Linked DNA regions of Homo sapiens: region 1 is linked to region 2. A link means that fine-mapping ties the variant in region 2 to the expression of a gene that starts in the linked region. Tissue or cell type: blood mononuclear cells. Region 2 holds a variant in brackets; the other region holds the start of a gene. All regions are shown on one strand. Distances are from middle to middle.

The links. PIP is the estimated chance that this variant, and not a neighbour inherited with it, causes the effect.
Region 1: TOR1AIP1 starts here. The variant in region 2 is fine-mapped to the expression of TOR1AIP1 in blood mononuclear cells (TOPMed, PIP 0.95).

Annotation. Positions count from the first base shown.
Region 1 is chr1:179,880,636-179,883,316 of GRCh38, forward strand. It overlaps TOR1AIP1 (torsin 1A interacting protein 1), which reads left to right and starts at 1,650. Exons shown (of 10, transcript NM_015602.4): 1 at 1,650-2,342. The coding sequence starts at 1,868. It overlaps LOC139427322, which reads left to right and starts at 1,681. Exons shown (of 1, transcript NM_001436163.1): 1 at 1,681-1,758. The coding sequence starts at 1,681. The coding sequence ends at 1,758. RefSeq lists enhancers at 1,016-1,554, 1,467-1,576, 1,555-2,092, 1,597-2,356, 1,919-2,213 and 1 more.
Region 2 is chr1:179,818,260-179,820,940 of GRCh38, forward strand. LINC02818 (long intergenic non-protein coding RNA 2818) reads right to left here. Exons shown (of 3, transcript XR_001738312.3): 3 at 1,567-2,190. It overlaps LOC105371634 (a long non-coding RNA gene), which reads right to left and starts at 1,159. Exons shown (of 5, transcript XR_007066756.1): 1 at 727-1,159. RefSeq lists an enhancer at 261-1,246. The variant T/G (reference allele first, on the strand shown) is at 1,654.

The sequences.
Region 1 (2,681 bases), 62 kb after region 2:
AAGAAGAAAGAAGAAAGAGAGACAGAAAAGAAAGAAAGAAGTCTCTCTTTTGTTACTGCAGTTTTTAAAAGCTATATTGTACATAAAGCTACAGTAAACTAAGCTCCTAACAGGCCAAACCTTATCTCACTCTAAAACTGTAATTCCTCCTGCCTGTGGCCAAATTTATGGACAATATTAGTAAAAACATAGTACACAGTCGGGCAGGGTGGCTCACGCCTGTAATCCCAGCACTTTGGGAGGCCGAGAGGCGGATCACGAGGTCAGGAGATCGAGACCATCCTGGCTAACACGGTGAAACCCTGTCTCTACTAAAAATACAAAAAAATTAGCCGGGCGTGGCGGCATGCGCCTGTAGTCCCAGCTGCTGGGGAGGCTGAAGCAGGAGAATGGCGTGAATCCGGGAGGCAGAGGTTGCAGTGAGCCGAGATCGCGCCACTGGACTCCAGCCTGGGTGACAGAGCAAGACTCCGTCTCAAAAAAAATAAAATAAAAATAAAAATAAAATAAAAACATAGTACACATTACGACTTAAGTAGTTGAAATTTGTGCCAAGTTTGAGCAACAAATGAGTTGCTCAAAAACATTTTAAGGTGATTACTTGGAAGAATAAACAAACACCTTCAAACTTTTCAGAATCGCTCATTGTAACTGGTATCCAAATTACAATTTTTTAAATCTATTCACTCCAATCATACAAAGCCCTACAAGCAGTTGTATATTTGAAGGCAATTTAAGCTTTCTTTCAATAATTATTCAGACTTTACACGAACTTAATCGACCTTCTCTGAATGTGTCTAAATTTGGTTAGGTATTTGCAGATTAGCCACATCTGTAAACATTTGTATAAGGAGGTGAAACAAATAGATTTTACCATGCTTTCTTATTCCATAAAGTCCATAAAGCATTCTAAATCAAATGTAGAGTATCACGTCACATCCAGAATAAAAGTAAAAATAATGGATCACAACTTAAAATTACAGTGCTGTCTTTAATTAAAAAACTTGTTCATTTCTCACTGTGCACAATGTAGCACTAACATGGTCTTCCGAACACTGCTGCTTGGTATAAAACCGAGAAATATTAAAGACCAGGAATAAGGTTATGTGTCCTATGGGTACATTTCGGAAAAGAAAATACATCCAACGAGTATGACTCTAGATAGGATTTTGTACACCCTCAACAAGTGACAAAATTCAAAACTAGGTAACCGCCCTCATAAGGTACTTGAAACTAAAATTTTTGCCACGAAAACATGGCATGTGCAAAAGTTCTCTCTCTGGCCATCACTCCTGCTAAGGACACTGGGAAGGACATGGTCAACGTAGCAGTCGATCAAAAAGATTCCAGGGAAACTGCGCAACAGCCTGGGGCCGAGAAGCGAAACTTGGGTCTTCTCCACCCTCGTCGCACTCCTTTTCCCCGAGACTTGGTACTGGGAGATAGGACGGGAGTCTCCTACACGCAGTCAACACTTGCCACGAGCGGCTAGACTTAGGACAGGCAAGTTGCCCTGCCATCCTTCTATCGCCCCCACCCCTCCTTTACTTAAGGGCGATGGCAGAGACGTCCTCCTCCCCCTTCTCCTCCTCTTTGGTGCCTCCAGCCAGGAGGCGGGAGCGATCCACAGCAGCTGACCCAGCTCAGGCACTGCCTCTCTCACAGCCCTCAAGACACACCATGGGCCCAGAGGCAGGTTTGCTACACAGCAGCGACGACGCAGGCGGCGGCCCCAGCGACTCGCAACTGCCTCCCTGACCACAGCGGCCACCGCCCAACACCCCCGAGAAGCCATCGCCACCACCGGCAGGAGAACCTAGGGTCCATAAAGCCATCTTCGCGATCGACTAAAGCTACGTCAACAACTATGGCGGGCGACGGGCGGCGGGCAGAGGCGGTGCGGGAAGGATGGGGTGTGTACGTCACCCCCAGGGCCCCCATCCGAGAGGGAAGGGGCCGGCTCGCCCCTCAAAATGGCGGCAGCAGCGATGCGCCTGCGTACAGAACTCCTCCGTCGCGCCAGGGCCGGCGGGAAGTGAGGTTCTCGGACGAGCCGCCAGAAGTGTACGGCGACTTCGAGCCCCTGGTGGCCAAAGAAAGGTCCCCGGTGGGAAAACGAACCCGGCTAGAAGAGTTCCGGTCCGATTCTGCGAAAGAGGAAGTGAGAGAAAGCGCGTACTACCTTCGGTCTAGGCAGCGGAGGCAGCCGCGACCCCAGGAAACCGAGGAAATGAAGACGCGAAGGACTACCCGCCTTCAGCAGCAGCACTCAGAGCAGCCTCCGCTACAGCCGTCTCCTGTTATGACCAGGAGAGGGCTGCGGGACTCTCATTCCTCTGAAGGTGAGGACCGCGGAGGTAACAGTCCCAGCCGCGAGCCAGGGAACGCGCGGGGGCGGGCGCGCGCCTCGGTGGAGCTCATGCCCGCCTGGGTACTAAGTACTGGGATTGGCTAAAGGGTATTCCTCAGCCCCCTCTGGACTTGTGCCGCCGTGCAAGGGCCACCCTGACCCGCAGCGGGGAAGGAAGCGCCGACCGGAGGAGTGGAAAGATGGTCGTGTGGAGCGACCCGGGCAGGGCTGGGGCGCTCTGCCCAACATCGGGCATCAATTTAGGGGAGTCAGAGCTGCCTTTTTCTGCAGGCCTTCACGAGGGGACAGCGAATTACTGCAGGGTCGGTTT
Region 2 (2,681 bases):
GCATGCTGCGCTATCCTGGGAGTCTCGGCCTTAGGCGGTTTGGTGATCTTCCCCTGGAAATAATCAGTGGGTCCTGAGCAGCACTTGTAAACTTGAATGTAGAAAGCTGGGTGAGAAGTTTTCATCCTCCGCACTGTTCAGGCCCAAAAAAGTTGGAGGCAGAGGCTGTCGTCAAAGTGGCACATTGCCCTCATACCCGGGGGCTTTCCAACCAACAGCTCTGGCACCCCAGATTCCAGCAGCCCCATAATGGCATCATTCAGCCCACATCCCCAAAACCTGTCCATGTCACTCTGCCCCTGGGGCTTCTGCAGGGACTTCAAGGAGAAGCTTCTTTCACCATAAAAACATCTCACCCAGTTTTCTACGCTCAAATTTACAAGTGCTGTTCAGGGACTATTGATTATTTACAGGAGAAGATCGCCAAACTACCTAAGACTGAGACTCCTGGGATAGGGCAGCATACCCCGGAGTCCCCCAGCTCGATTTGCTCGGAACTCAGAAAGAAAACGGCCTACACTCCTTGAACCTCAGGCACTGACGGAGGCATTTTCTAAAGAACAGTGACAAGGACGGCCAGTACCTCCCCCGCAGTCTGACTCAAGCTACTCCTCCACCCTCCTCCCCAGCTGGCCCCTCTCTCCACCAGTTCCCCCTCCCAACGGCCATCCTTCCTTCATCGCCGGCCTGTCAGCTCGCTGGGTGGAGAACCAAGTAGTGCACAACCTCTCAGAACACACCACTTGCACCTTCACAGCGTGCCTCGGAGGGAGTGGCACATGGCTCCATCCTCCAGCCCAGCACACAGCACCCCTCATGCAGCTGGCTCATGCTGAGGATGGCAGGAGGAGGTGAAGGCGGAGCTCCCGGGTCACAAAGCCATTATCTCTTTTCTCCTGTGACCTAACACCCCAGCAGACACAGCAGTCTAGTGGCAGCGGTTAGAAGGTGGGATTTGGAAGCAGACTTCAGCTGGAATCCTGACTCTACCACTTACTGTGTGACTTTAGGCAACTTTGGGGACCTCTCTCCTTCTCAGTTTTCTCACTTGTAAAATTGGGATCATAATGCCCACTGTATTCCATGAAAATTAAGTGAGCTGACTGGGTGCGGTGGCTCACACCTGTAATCCCAGCACTTTGGGAGGCAGAGGTGGGCAGATCGCCTGAGCTCAGAAGTTCGAGACCACCCTGGGCAACATGGTGAAATCCTGTCTCTACTAAAACACAAAAAATTAGCCGGACGAGGTGACAGGCATCTGTAGTCCCAGCTACTTGGGAGGCTGAGGCACCAAGAATCACTTGAGTCCCGGAGGCGGAGGTTGCAGTGAGCCAAGACTGCACTACTGCACTCCAGCTTGGGCTACATAGTGAGACACCATCTCAAAAAAAAATTAAGTGAGCTGACACCTCACTTAATTTTAATGGATACAGTGGGCATTATGGTCCCAATGTGACACCTCACATTAATGATAATGGCACATGTGGTAGCCACTATCATTAGCAGTATAGCCAAGTCCAAACTCTACCACTCACAACATGACAGCCAATAAGTTGAGAGAAGGTGTTGGGGTAAGGAAGATGACTTTATTTCTGGGAGCTTCCAACTGAGAAGATGGAGGACCAATGTCCTAAAGAACATTTTTTTTTTTTT[T/G]TGTGAGTCGGAGTCTCACTCTGTTGTCCAGGCTGAAGTGCAATGGCACAATCTTCAGCTCACTGCAACCTCCACCTCCTGGGTTCAAGCAATTCTCCTGCCTAGGCCTCCCGAGTAGCTGGGATTACAGGTGCCCGCCACCACTCCCAGCTAATTTTTGTATTTTTAGTAGAGATGGGGTTTCACCACAGGCTGGTCTCTTGGCCAGGCTGGTCTCGAACTCCTGACCTCGTGATCCTCCTGCCTAAGCCTCCCAAAGTGATGGGATTACGGGCATGAGCCACCGTGCCCAGCCAGAACCAACTTAGATTGATAGATTTTTTTAGGCTTCTTTCATATTAGAGGAAGAGGGACCATGCAGGGGGTGAAGGTCTGGAGGTGACTGGAGGCCACAGACATCTGGCTGTCATCAGGGGTCCAAGGAGGTTGCAAAACTTCTTTGTTCATGGTCAACTGCTTGTCAGATCCACCTTGTTGCTCTAAGTCTTTCAGACAGCACTGTTACTTGAGTGCACACTTCCTCATCTCCTCAGGAGTCTGTTTCAAAAGAGAGGTGGTCATTAGTACTAGCGTTAAACTGTAATCAAAATGCTTTTCGTGGTTAGCTTGGCCTGTGTCTAGGGATGAGCAAAGGCAGTTGGCTTATGAGGTTAGAAGCAAGATGGAGTCAGCGATGTTAGATTTCTCTGGCTGTTACAGTAGGATATACAGACAGAACCGAATCTGGAGGCAGCAGGGCCCCCCACAGGGGCTACTTAGGCAACAGGAAGGAAGGTTCCCTCTGGGCTCTCCCATTCTCCCCACTGCACCAATGTCCACACCTGCACTCAGTCCCTCCTCCCTCGTACTACTTGGTTCTCCACCCAGTGAGCTGCCGGGCGATGAAGGACGGATGGCCGTTGGGAGGTGGAGAGAGGGGCCAGCTGGGGCCAGCCTGTGCCACTACTGCCAGGTCCACCTCTCTCTCTGTGTGGAACCTCCCACCTCTGCCAGTAACTCTGCCTGTGACTCACTGAGGGACCCATGCT